Homo sapiens: one gene and its partners. The protein of the gene in region 4 interacts with the protein of the main gene of each other region in a pairwise test. Each region holds a gene or a part of one and is shown on either strand. Other genes may lie near its edges.

Region 1 (3,500 bases), on a different chromosome or scaffold from region 4:
GAGTCCCACCCCAGGATAAACACTTCCAAAATACTAAAGCACTCTAGCTTGGTGTTAAAACCACTGATTCTTCTCTCCCTTAACTACTACTTACTAAGTTCAAAGACAAATATCTATAGAAGTCAAATTTGCTTCAAGACAGCCTCTAATTAACTGTGACCTTGGGTAAATTAAATTTTTCTGATCCCTAGGTATAAAACTTATACCTCAAAGAGCTATGAAGACTCAATGACACTGTGTATGTAAAGCACTTAGTACTGATAAATGGCAGCTAATACCATTCTCTCTGTACTTTTCAGTACCAGATTTATAGGAAACACTCAACAAATACATGTCAAATGAATAAATCCTTTATTACATACATGCTAATCACTGGAAAGGCAATTTGTGGGATGAGAGAGGTGAGTAGAGAAACATGTCCTAGAATATAAACAATACAATTTCCACCAAACATTACATGTACACCAGAGTACACAACCAGACAAAGGATTAAGGATATTTGGTAAATTTTAAATACTTATGAAGAAGAGTACACTCATCCCTCGGTATACTCGGGGTACTTGTTCCAGGACAGCCCAAGTATACCCAAATCTATGTATATTCAGGTCCCATGGTTAGCCAAGTGGTAGTCAGCCCTCTCTACAGGTGGGTTCCATATCCTGTGAATATCGTACTTCCTTTTCCCATTTAGTTGAAAAAAATCTGTGTATAAATGGACCCTCACACTTCAAACCATGTTGTTAAAGGGTCAACTGTATACAGTTTTTGAAACTTATTTTCCTCTCAATGTTTTCGCAGTTCATCACATCTTTCAATGAGTAATGTTTAACAAACAAGTAGTAACATTAAACACTACTTAAACCACAATTGCTTACTGCTTGCTCATTCCATAGAACCAATGAAATAGCTAACCAAATAGTTTTTCAAAGAGTTTTTCAGTGTTTAATATCCTGGTTCACACCTCTCACTATCCCTTCCCAAGCACCAGCATCTTGATTTGGGGGTTTTTCATTCCAATCTGTATATACCCCTAAATAATGTATGTTACTATTTTATGTGTCTTTCTATGAATAACCACATTATTAAGTACTTGTGGAAAAACATTTAATGGCAATTTTTTTAAATTTACAAGTTTCTAATACTGCAAAATAAATCAATTATCAAATAATTCACAAATTTAACAAGCTTAATTTTGAATATATTCAAAATTACTAAATACATGTCAGACACAGCTCAAATTCTAAATAAATATTAAACATCATCCAAAATCCAAACTCCTAAGTACATTAGAGGGGAGAGAAAAAAGGAGACTAATGTTTACTGAATACCAACTTTGTGCCAGACTCTGTTTACATATGTATCATTGTTCTGGACTAAATCTTTGTACCCTGGCCCCCCAAAACCCCCCCAAAAATTCTTATGTTGAAGCCCTCATCCTCAATATGATGGTATTCGGGAGGTAATCAGGATTGAATGAGGTCTTGCGGGTAGGGCTCCCATGATGGGATTAGTGCCTTAAGAGACACCAGAGAGCATGCACTCTTTCATTCTGCCACAAGAGAACACAGCACAAAGGCAGCCTTGTGCAAGGCAGGAAGAGTGGCCTCACCAAGAACTGTATCGACCTACACTTTAATCTTGGACTCCACAGCCTCCAGAATGGGTGAGAAAATAAATCTCTGATGTTTAAGCCACCCAGTCTATGCTATTTTGTTATGGTAGCCCAGGCCAACCATTACAATAATGTAATTCTTTCATGACTCTAATAAATATTATTAGCCATATATTACAGATAATGAAATTGAGGATTAAGATGGTAACAGCTCAGAGAAAAACATAATGGTTAATCTTACTTAAAAAAATCAATCCAAATCAAAATGATACAATTTTATTTTTCATTCATGAGGTCAGTAATGACTAACATGTTTACTATCTAGTGTAGCAAGCTTATGAGGGAAAAGGTGAACTGTAGATGAAAACATAAATTGGCATAACCCTTCTCAAAGGCAATTTGAGAGTATCTGTCAAAATTTAAGATATGCCAGGTCTAAGATGAGGTGTCTAAGCCCAAGTAGAGCAAGGAGGGCATTCCTGGAGAGGGGCAGCATGGTGTGGCTGGTGTGTCAGAGCCTGGACAGAACGAAGTCACCCACACTAGAGGATGGGAGGGTGGCCTGGCATAAAATGTGGAGCCCAAGTTGGGCAAGAAGGGCACCTGTTGGGGGCAGCAAAGATTGGTTAGGAAGGGGGATGACCAAATAGACAATACATTGAAGATAATGGAAGCCAGGTTTCTCACTATTGGAGAAGGGAATAACAAATGTAGAAAGGGAAAAAACTAGAATGAATCCAGTGGTGTTGAACTGCAATTGGAGACATCTGTGTGAACCCATGGTTTTATACATACACACACACACACACTCCTGTACATCCCTAGTTCCTTCCACTTAGAGGGTCTGGGAGCAGGAATATCCCAAATGCAATAAACATAAGCAAAGTGAAGACCCTGCATTCTAAATACCATTCTCCACTAAAAAGAAATCACATTGGAGCAACGGCTGATTTCACATATAAAATTAGTTTGGAATACACCTTGTGCCAGAATGCTAGGAAATGCACAAAGAATAATGGAGACATGGCAAAAGGACACAGAAGACAGCCTGAAGGAGTTCTGCATGTTCAAATATGGGACAATCTGAGAATCCAAATAATAGTTACAAATTATAACCTACTGAGTCAGAATCCACTAGTCCACACTGCTATACATTTTTTAAAAGATGAACAAGTTACAAGTTTGATGATCACTGGAATACTGTATTTACATAGTTTCAAAGTCCCTCCCCCAAAACTGCCTATTAGGAAGGGAAAATTAGTAACCTAACAATGGAAAGGCCTAACAAACACCACCTTAATAGTGATTGAAGTGAACATCCCCAGTAATGGAACAAATGAGAATAATGTTCCACCTAAAAAGATGTCATTAGAACAGAGCACCAGGACTACAATGTAGAACTTCTATCATGAGGAAATAGGCACAGGTGAGGAACATTCTACAAAATATCTGGCCTGTAGTCTTCTAAAGTGTGAAAATCATTAAAGTTAAAGACAAACAGGAAATGCTCTAGACTAAGGAAGACTAAAGAGACAGGACAAGATAATGTAATCCAGGACTCTATAGTAAGACATTATTGAGACAATGGGAGAAAGCTGAAAGTGATCTGTGGGTTAGATCATACAGGTTGAGTATCCCTTATTCAAAATGCTTGAGACCAGAAGTGTTTCAAATTTTGTATTTTTTTGAATTTTGAAATACTTGCATTATATATTTACAACTGGGCATCCCAAATCCCCTAATCTGAAATTTCATGTTGGTACTCAGAAAGTTTGAGATTCCGGAGGATTTCAGATTTGGGATGCTCAACCTATAGTAATGCATCAGTGCGTTAATTTCCTGATTTTGATGGTTGTCTTGTGACTATGTCCTTGTAGGAAATACACAT
Region 2 (3,500 bases), on a different chromosome or scaffold from region 4:
GATGTTTAGAATCAGCTTCCAAATGGACCTTCCAACTTAGAAATCAAGTTTTAAAAAATAAGATTTGCACAAGAGAAGAGATCCAATTCAAACCAACACAAATCTCAACAGAAAGAAGTGATATAGCCGGGCACAGTGGCTCACGCCTGTAATCTCAGCACTTTGGGAGGCCGAGGTGGGCGGATCACCTGAGGTCGGGAGTTCAAGACCAGCCTGACCAACATGGAGAAACCCCATTTCTACTAAAAATACAAAATTAGCTGGGTGTGGTGGCGCATGCCTGTAATCCCAGCTACTCAGGAGGCTGAGGCAGGAGAATCGCTTGAACCCGGGAGGCGGAGGTTGTGGTGAGCCGAGATCATGCCATTGCACTCCAGCCTGGGCAACAAGAGCAAAACTATGTCTCAAAAAGTCAAAACAAAAACAAACAAACAAACAAAAAGAAGTGATATAATACAGTGGTCCTCCCTTATCTGTGGTTTTTCTTTCCATGGTTTTAGTTAACTGCAGTCAACCATGGTCAAAAATATTAAATGAAAAATCCTAGAAATAATTCATAAGTTTTAAATTATGCACAATTCTGAATAGTGTGATGTAATTTCCCACTGTTCCACTCCATCCCATCCAAGACATGAATCATCCCTTTGTCCAGTGTATCCAGGATGTACATGCCACCTGCCCATTAGTCCCTTAGTAGCCATCTCAGTTATCAGGTCCACTAGCATAGTATTGCAATGCTTGTATTCAAGTAACCCTTATTTCATTTAATAATGGCTCCAAAGTATAAGAGTAGTGATGCTAAGCATACTGTTATAATTTTTCTGTTTTATTATTAATTATGGTTGTTAATCTCTTACTGTGCCTAATTTATAAATTAAACTTTATCATTGGTATGTTTAGAAAAAAAAAGTATATATAGGGTTTGATAGTATCTGTAGTTTCAGGCATCTGCTGGGGGTCTTGGAATGTATTCCCCTTGATTAAGTTGTGACTACTATATTGGTTGTTCAAGGTTGGTGAGGAGAGTACTTCTGTAAAATTGGTCCTGAACTGCTTTACAGCAACATTCTTAACTTTGAAAGCTAAAGATCTTTGATATTACTCTATCCAATCCCAGTTAGCAGTATATTTAATTCATTTTTCTTGATTATATAAGTTGCTATGAAACAATTAATGTAATGAGAAAAACAGATTACAGACTCTGCATTTTATATTTAAATATTTAAATCAATAAGCTGTTTAGACATTAACATAAAAATAAATTAAGGTTATTTACCATTTAGCAATTCAATGAGTGCAGGGATTATGCCAGATTTGGCTAGCAATGCAGCACAAGAGTCATCCATGGATACAGTTCCAATCATTATAACCACTTCTAAAACAAGATCATCTTCTGCAGCACCTAGTGAAGTCAAACCATAGAAAGTTTTCACTGAAATGTCCTGATCCAAATTCATTTAGAGTATCAAAATGTAAATACACAGAAAGGATACTGAAAGCTATTAAATCAAGTCATATGAATCCTTGATATGCTATAAATTTGTCCTTTTTCCAAATTTCCATGTTTGCTGATGACAGTTTGTGATAGTGGGGGCAGGGGGCAGTAGAAAAGTGGAAATGAGCCTTTGAGAGTACAACTGAATGACAACATAGACACAGAAAATAAAAGACTCATTTGAATGCCTCAAAGACCTTTGTGCGTGTTTATGTATATGCAGAGGGATGGTATTTGGTAATTTTAAAGAGACAGAATAAAAAAATACCAAAAGACCACAAGAAAGGTAGAATAGGAAATAGAAACTAACATAAGAAAACACACTTTTAGGAAAAAGAGAACATATATGTAAGAGGTGATCCAGTGACTACCTTTCTGGGAGAAGAGAGCTGTGAGAAGAAATGGCTTTTCCTAACATAATAATAGTCACACAATACTGCTCTAGCAGCCTTATCCATAACAGAAAGAAATAACTTAGTGATTATACAAAAGTGAAATACTTAGCACAAACCTGGTTTTAGTTTATCCTTGAGGTATGGAACCAACTTATATTCTTTAAGAACCAATTCCCAGTCTAAGTCTGGAATGGTCAAGTTTGCAAGAGTTCCCAAACATTCAATCACAAACTCCTCTTCTTCATCATTAGAGATCTGGGCTGCAAGGTCCCCAACATAATCCTGAATAAAACATAATTTTAATATAAATTTAAATTATTTTTTATTTAATCTAATAACCCACAGGAATCTAACAATTTAACTCATTGAAAGAAAAAGTAAATATCAAATGTGATTTTCTTGTTTTAATAATCTTGAGCTAAATTGCTAAAGAAGCCTATGGTGAACTGGTTTAAGGCAAGAAGACTGTAGTGGGGTGGAGGGATTAGGGGTAAGGGTCACAAAACAAAAACAACATTGAAACATAGGTTGAGATTTCTAGGTGCTAAACTAACAAAGTTGATAACATAAGAGCAATTTGGATTATAAATTAATATTTGACGAGACCTCAGTAAGAGCTGTATTTCCAAATGTAGCAATTTCAATTCCCAGTCTATTTGAATAGAAAGCCAAAATGATACTTACAATAAACAGATTTTTAGTTGGTCCATCATGCTGAGAAATGTTTCTAATCATTTTCATCAGCAATGGATCCTTAAACTTCAGAGCCCTCTTCATGAGCATCTTCAGCCCATTTCCTGAAACAGAAAAGTCCCCCAATAAAATTAAGGTTAGCTTAAGTTTAATAATTTTTTGTTTAGTTCTCAAAAAAGCCACAACAATTTACATCTAGTAAAATGCATAACTCTTAAGGGTACAATTTGATTAATTTAGATGCAACCCATACCATATATCAACATACAGAGTATTTTCATTCCCTCCAGAAAGTTCACTTGTGCCCCTTCCCAGTCAATCCTGTTTCCCAGATATAATCACTTTTCCTCTTCCCTGTCTCATTTTTAAACATATATAAATTTTGCCTGATATAGAACTTCATATAAATAGAATCATACCATATGTGCTCTTTTGTGCCTACAATATCTACTACAAATGTTAAAAACAAAAATACTTTTGACTCAGAAAAATTGTACTTCTGGGAATTTATCCTAACAATATAAAAATGAAAATGTGTAAAGATTCAGAGAATGGGTAATTACTATAGCACTGTTTGTAACGGAAAATAAGTGGCAATGAACTATATCCATAATAGTGAAGTAAACTATGGCAAAATTCTTTAATAGACAATTTTGCAGTTATTAACAAATATGCTTTATAAAAACACTTAATCACATAAAATATTATTTCAAGATATTACTAATTTTAAAAGAATGTATCATGATATATAGACAATCACATTTTTATTTAAAAATATGCAGAAGTATTACACTAAAATCTTACCTATGATTATCTGTGGATGGTAGGAAATAAAGATTTAAATCTTTTCCTTTTTGCTCATTTGTGCTTTTTATAACAAACACATACTACTTTTCAAATAAGGCAAAAACTATCGG
Region 3 (3,055 bases), on a different chromosome or scaffold from region 4:
GCATACTTTCCAAACATCCTTTTGAGCTTCTACCAGTCCACCCCATAATTACAAAGAGAAATATCATGTTGAACGGTATCTATCTAGCTGACAACAGGATTTTTGTTCAGGAACTAGAAACAAAGAGCTTTGCTGTTTTGATGACCAATATTTAAATGATAACAAAACCGGAATCTTGAGTTCCTTCCTGGTGTCCTTAGTTCCACTGTCACGTGAGCAGGCCAGTTGTAATTGTCTGCAGAAATGAGGAAGATGAGATCCCAGGAGGATACGTGTTTCCTTCAGTCCCCCAGCCAGGAAGAGGCAAATACTCATCTTGGTTCTTCTGTCTTCCTGTCCCATTTTTTTTACCTCTGTGCCAATGGTTCTCAAATTGGAGCATGAGCCAGAATTCCCCAAAGGGCTGTTAAAGCACAGATTGCTGGGGCCCATCGCCAGAGGCCCTGATTCAGTAGGTCTGGAGTGGGACCCAGTAATCTGCATTTCTAACAAGTTCCCAGGTGATGCTGATGCTGCTGGTCTTGGGATTATGCTTTGAAGACCACTGATACTTCATATCTGGCCTCCTTCATTTTCTGTGAACACTCTGAGTCTTTCTATGAACACTCTGAGACATGGAAAAGTTGGAAGAGCTATACTGGGCTACTATTTCCCTTGTGTTCAAAATAAATCCAGTTTCCTGGCAAATTCATTAAGGAATAAACCCAAAGAAGTCTTTTGTCATTATGCTAACAGAGTTGGAAGGTGTCATGACACTATCCTTCATAATTTAGAGTGAATATTCTACTGTTGAGGAAAAAGTTCAGCAAAGATGACTTGGTAGAAACAGAAGCCATGGAACAGAGCGCAGAGAGCGTGAGCATATTGACCCTGGAGTGAGCTGCTGGTCACCACCCCTTTCCAAAACAAGATGCAGCGTTAAGGCAAAGAAGGCAAAAGCTTCGGGCTTGCGTATTCCTGGGCTTCTCTAGACCGTAACAGACACCCAGATTCAGAAATCCCCTCTGCTCTATTGGGGCATCATTCTACATCCCTCATCCAAATCTGGCTGATGCAAACTGTGCAATTTTTAATGCATTTATTTTTAGCTCTTATGTGAGGAGGGCTTTGGGAGGGGTCATTTCATCAGCCAGATTTTCAACTGTCAGATATTCCCTTAAAGTTTAAAATGCAGCCAATATTCCTCCACTGTGGATGTGTTTCACCAGCAAACGTCCATACCACAAGAGCAAATACCACAAGACGTCCATACCACAAGAGCAAATACCACAAGATACCACAAGAGCAAATACCACAGAAATGTCCATACCACAAGAGCAAATACCACAGTGAGCAAATTCTGTCTCTCCGGGTGCAGCAGTGACACGTGTCACCTGTGACAGTTCATTTGTACACACTTTTGGGACTGGGGCACCAAACCTCAGAAGTGATTGGTGTGGGATTTTATGAACAGTACAGATGAATGAAGAAGTTAATTCTCTGGGGTAAGAGGCTGAAAAAGCTGATACCCAGCTCCCAAATGTTCACCAACCAGAGAGAACATGACAACAGTCAAAGCAATTTGAACGAGGTTGTGCAAAAGAACCAAAAAAATGAAAGCAGAAGCCACTTTGGAGGAGAGCTATAACCCTTGTGAGTGACTCCTCCTGAAGATGTCCCTGTCCCCTGCACTGCCTTCCCTGGCCCCCAAAAATCCATAAGAAAACACACCGCTTCTTGGTCTCTTTTGTCCACCGACTTTCTTATCTTAGAGCCTAGAGTCAGCTCCTTGAGGCCTGTCCTCCAAGGTTTGGCCACCTTGGCTCTGATGGGACTGGACTACGTTGGTAGAACACCTGGGTTTTAGAGTCAGCCAGCCGTATGTTCCAGTTCCAGTTCACAACACCACTAGCTATGACGTTTTGGAGAAGTTTCTTAACTTCTCTGTGCTTCAGTTTTCTCATCTATAAGGTGGGAGTTTGCTTGAGGGATGGATGGATGGATGGATTGGTGGGTGGATAGGAAGACAGACAGATGATAGATTATAGATATTGATGTAGACAGACACAAACACACATAAATATTTATGACTACTGGAGTATTAAAGAATTTGCTAAATGTTGAATAGGGTGCCCTGCTGAACAAGAAACACAGCAAATCTAGTTCCCTCCCTGTATAATTTTTCCAAACTTCTAGATTCTGAGCCTTTGCATGTCTTGCACTTGGAAAACAGCCCTGTGTTGGAGTGGAGTTCAGCAGCACACAAGCAGAGCTCTTCAAAGAATAGCAAAGGGCACCCCAACCTAGCAACGCAGTCCAGTAGACCTGGACTTAGCAGTATTTAATTGCAGATGTTGCACATTCATTCCAAATGTTCCTCTCATCCTTTGTTAGCTCTCAGGCTAACAAAGGTTTATCCTCTATGGACTTTTGGACTTCTGTAGGTAGACAGAAACCTCATTCATTCAGCTACCACTAACTAGACACGTGGGACATCCTAGACAGCTGCTGTGATGAAGTTCACCACTTCTTTGAAGATCAGGTTGATTACTAGTATAAATCAATGACATATATAAGAGGGAGTTTCACTTACTTGAGAGAAGAATTATGTGTAAGCCTTTAAAAGCATTCATTTACACACAACGTGCTAATTACAAATCATTATCTATTAACTAAGACCAATTTCTAGAGAACGTTTCCGTGCTGAACTTTAGTTAAATTAATAGGGAGTCACTGAGTCCACCCAAAAGTGATCAAACAGTATTTCTTTAAGAGTGTTTAATAATTCACACCAGATCTCCTCCCCAATTACTGCACATTAGCAGAGCTTTGTGCATCCCGGTATGCACTTGCTGTAGGGTTAACCTCACCCTATACCTTGGGAGGTTCTGCTCATTTCAGGGGCAGGTGCTTGAAAAGGGACCCCAGGGACTAGAACAGATACAAATGCACCAATGTTTATTGCAACATTATTTACAGCAGCTAAAAGGTAAAAATAACCCAAGCGTCCATCAATGGATGAATGGATAAATAAAATGTGGTCTATGCATACCATGGACTATTTTATTCTTATATA
Region 4 (3,500 bases):
TCTAAAGACTTGACTTTATTCAAAAGAGAGGGTAAGACCAAGACTTGGGTACAGGCAGTTTGAGAGGTGATTCCAGGAAGCAGCAGAATACAGGGGAGAGAGAGACCAGAAGCAGCAGAAGTAAGACAGGGCATGTTATTGATCTTTTTACACCTGTGGGCAACTGGATTTGTTCTGTTAAGGACCAGGAACCATGTAGGGACTCCTATACCCCATTGGATAAGGGTTGCATGAACTCCCTTGCATTTCCATGTTGAGTCTTGAGTGCTTGTTGAGACAGTGGCAGCAAACAGGGAACCCTCTGATACTTTTCAAACATAGCTGCCCCGAAATCAGAGGTAGCGTAATGTGGGGCACACACACACAAAAAGCATGTTTCAGTGACCTTTAAAGTGTCAGTATGACCTTTTGGATTTAAATAATTTGAAATATTTTAATCCATGATAATGAGTGATGATGTTACTGATGCTCAAATATTCCTATTTTTGCTAATGGTGGAACTTCTTAAAGTTGGATCCTGAATTCTTTAGGCAAATTAAAAAGCCCTATGACTTTATAGCTCCTTTACATGACAAGATGTTTCAGGTCAAGCATTGCACAAAATATCAACCAAGCAAAAGATCGTTCTTTTCTCTTGCTTCTGACTCCCTTGTATGGCAGAGGGACAAGAAGATAGGGGCTGTGGAAGCTGATGCTGGTGTTCACTACCTAAGAATTGCCAGGAACACATCTTGGCTTTAAGGAAGAACAATTTCATATGGAAACAGTGAAGTTACTTGTTCAAAGATACATAGTACAGTTATTCTAAACTTTTTTTTGGCTTCCTGAACATGCCTTGATCTAATTGGAAAATGCTTAGTAGTGACCCCAGTGGTTTTCCAGATAACTTTTCTGAATATCTTCACTCATCTCCCCTACCACTGTCCTAGGACAGTTCTCTTCATTCAGTAAGGCCTAGAGTTGGCCCTGGTGGTATTTGACATAAGGTAAGTGTATTGATTTATTTAGGAAGCCTAGAGTATTAGTTAGATGTCAGTGGAAAAGGAGCATATCATCTTCCTATCTCAGTCTTTTTGTATAAAGTACAGTCAACTTAAACATTAAGACCAGAGAAGAAAGGCTTAAAAAAATAGGAACATGTAGCCTTGAGCAGAAGAAATTTGGGGAAATGCTACTCATTTTGTTTGATCATGGTTTGGGAACTTTTATTGTATGTGATCCACAGATCTCTTAGCTTGTGCTATTCAGGCCACTTTCTCTGTGACTGTTAATGTATCTGGTTTTCATGACAGTTTAAGGAACCTCCAAAGCCTGGGACAATTGCCTCAATTCATTGTACCCTAGGGATGGCTCTGATATATAATTATTCTAACTGGAATACTGGTTAGGTGCCAATGAGTAACACAGTGGGAAATAACATAGGCTTTTATAATTAGATAAGAGTTGAATAGATACAGTTAAATCTTGGCTTCACAACTTGGCTGAGTAATCTTGGGAAAGATACTTAGCCTCTCTTAGCATGTGATTCTGTGTAAATTGAGGATGATGCTAATACCTCCTTTTGGCAGCTTCTGCTTTTATCTCACTTTCCCCTTATATCTGTTTTCAGCAATTTTAAATTCCCCAGCTCTCAGATACAACTCCAACAGCAAAAGTAGATTTCTGAATGTATTGTGGAGAGATTTATACAAGAATTGTATAACCCTTAGACTTTTTTTTTGTTCTGTGTCAGAATTTTTCCTTCCCGGGTAGCAACTTCCCTCTCTAATTCTCTTCATCCCTTTAAATTCTCTAAAATATACATATATATTATATATATATTTTTATATTTGTTTCCTCGAGTAATTTGGCTTTGCCCATCTGGCAAAACTTCACTTAGACTGCTCTTCTGGTATTCCTGAAGCATGCACCTTGGCATACGGGGAGGTTTGAGGTTGGGGCTGGAAGGAGGAGCAAGAAGCATCTTGTCAAATGCCTCACAGCTTATATTTGAATTTTTAATGTAAACAGGTCTACAACAGGATTCTAGACTGTTTAACTTACTGATCATATATATATATATATATATATATATATATATATATATATAATTTTTTTTTTTTTTTGGGAGACAGAGTCTCACTCTGTTGCCCAGGCTGGAGTGCAGTGGCATAGTCTCGGCTCACTGCAAGCTCTGCCTCCCAGGTTCACGCCATTCTCCTGCCTCAGCCTCCCGAGTAGCTGGGACTACAGGCGCCCGCCACCACGCCTGGCTAATTTTTTGTATTTTTAGTAGAGACGGGATTTCACTGTGCTAGCCAGGATGGTCTTGATCTCCTGACCTCATGATCCGCCTGCCTTGGCCTCCCAAAGTGCTGCGATTACAGGCGTGAGCCACTGTGCCCAGCCTATATATATATTTTTAAAAAACCAGCTTTTAGGCTGGGCATGGTGGCTGATGCCTGTAATCCCAGCACTTTGGGAGGCCAGAGCAGGTGGATCACCTGAGGTCGGGAGTTCAAGACTAGCCTGGAGAAACCCTGCCTCTACTAAAAATACAAAATTAGCCAGGCATGGTGGCGCATGCCTGTAATCTCAGCTACTCAGGAGGCTGAGGCAGGAGAATCACTTGAACCTGGGAGGCAGAGGTTGTGGTGAGCCGAGATTGCGCCATTGCACTCCAGCCTAGGCAACAAGAGCAAAACTCTGTCTTAAAAAACAAACAAACAAAAAAAAGCTTTTATTAAAGATACTAATTAAAATCGGACTTCATTATGTTTTAAGTATCTCAAGCTATAAATCCTGTGACTACATATTTTATCTCGAATGGTTGACTGGTTTACTGCTTGTTATTTTATATGCATTAAAGCATTTATTTACTAGTGTATCTGTTAGATAAGTCCTGGTAAAGAGGACAGAAAGTAGTATGCTTCTCCCAACAGTTTATACTATACTGGGGAGTAAACATGTAAAGAAATGAAGCCATGGAATACATATTAAAGTTGTATTCATTTGTAATTTCAGTATCCATATATTCCTGCACATATTACAAAGCCTAAGGAACATAAGAAGTTGTTTCTGGTTCAGCTTCAAGAAAAAGGTAAGTTATTTTGTTTTCAAAGGTAGCCATCTAAAAATTCTGTAGAATAATTTCAAGGATACCTCTATTTGTGTTTTCTCAAAGTTCCTTGAACTTTTGGGTTTGTTGTAAAACTAAAGATGTATACCATGCTTTTAGTTTCAAATCTGTGGCTAGGAAATCTACCTTGAAAGACACAACCAAAATGTATTAATGAGAATTATCTTTTTTCTTACACTTTTTATTAAATGTAAAATTGGTAATTTAAAAATGAAATGGAAGCAGTGATTATATAATAACTTATAATAATGAATTCTGTTTTATTTTAGCCTTGTTTGCAGTCCCTAAAAATTACAAGCTGGTAGCTGCACCATTGTTTGAATTGTATGACAATGCACCAGGATATGGACCCATCATTTCTAGTCTCCCTCAGCTGTTGAGC

The links.
Region 1: the proteins of NUDT21 (region 4) and SEM1 interact in a two-hybrid assay, tested with the Homo sapiens proteins (one large-scale study listed by BioGRID and IntAct).
Region 2: the proteins of NUDT21 (region 4) and KIFAP3 interact in a two-hybrid assay, tested with the Homo sapiens proteins (one large-scale study listed by BioGRID and IntAct).
Region 3: the proteins of NUDT21 (region 4) and CTNND2 interact in a two-hybrid assay, tested with the Homo sapiens proteins (one large-scale study listed by BioGRID and IntAct).

Annotation. Positions count from the first base shown.
Region 1 is NC_000007.14:96,699,847-96,703,346, forward strand, and holds part of SEM1 (26S proteasome complex subunit SEM1), read right to left. Parts: intron 1-3,500. UniProt on the Homo sapiens protein: Component of the 26S proteasome, a multiprotein complex involved in the ATP-dependent degradation of ubiquitinated proteins.
Region 2 is NC_000001.11:169,980,696-169,984,195, forward strand, and holds part of KIFAP3 (kinesin-associated protein 3), read right to left. Parts: intron 2,688-3,500; coding exon 2,575-2,687; intron 2,173-2,574; coding exon 2,007-2,172; intron 1,403-2,006; coding exon 1,277-1,402; intron 1-1,276. UniProt on the Homo sapiens protein: Involved in tethering the chromosomes to the spindle pole and in chromosome movement. Binds to the tail domain of the KIF3A/KIF3B heterodimer to form a heterotrimeric KIF3 complex and may regulate the membrane binding of this complex.
Region 3 is NC_000005.10:10,974,392-10,977,446, reverse strand, and holds part of CTNND2 (catenin delta-2), read left to right. Parts: intron 1-3,055. UniProt on the Homo sapiens protein: Has a critical role in neuronal development, particularly in the formation and/or maintenance of dendritic spines and synapses. Involved in the regulation of Wnt signaling.
Region 4 is NC_000016.10:56,434,333-56,437,832, reverse strand, and holds part of NUDT21 (cleavage and polyadenylation specificity factor subunit 5), read left to right. Parts: intron 1-3,003; coding exon 3,004-3,079; intron 3,080-3,387; coding exon 3,388-3,500. UniProt on the Homo sapiens protein: Component of the cleavage factor Im (CFIm) complex that functions as an activator of the pre-mRNA 3'-end cleavage and polyadenylation processing required for the maturation of pre-mRNA into functional mRNAs.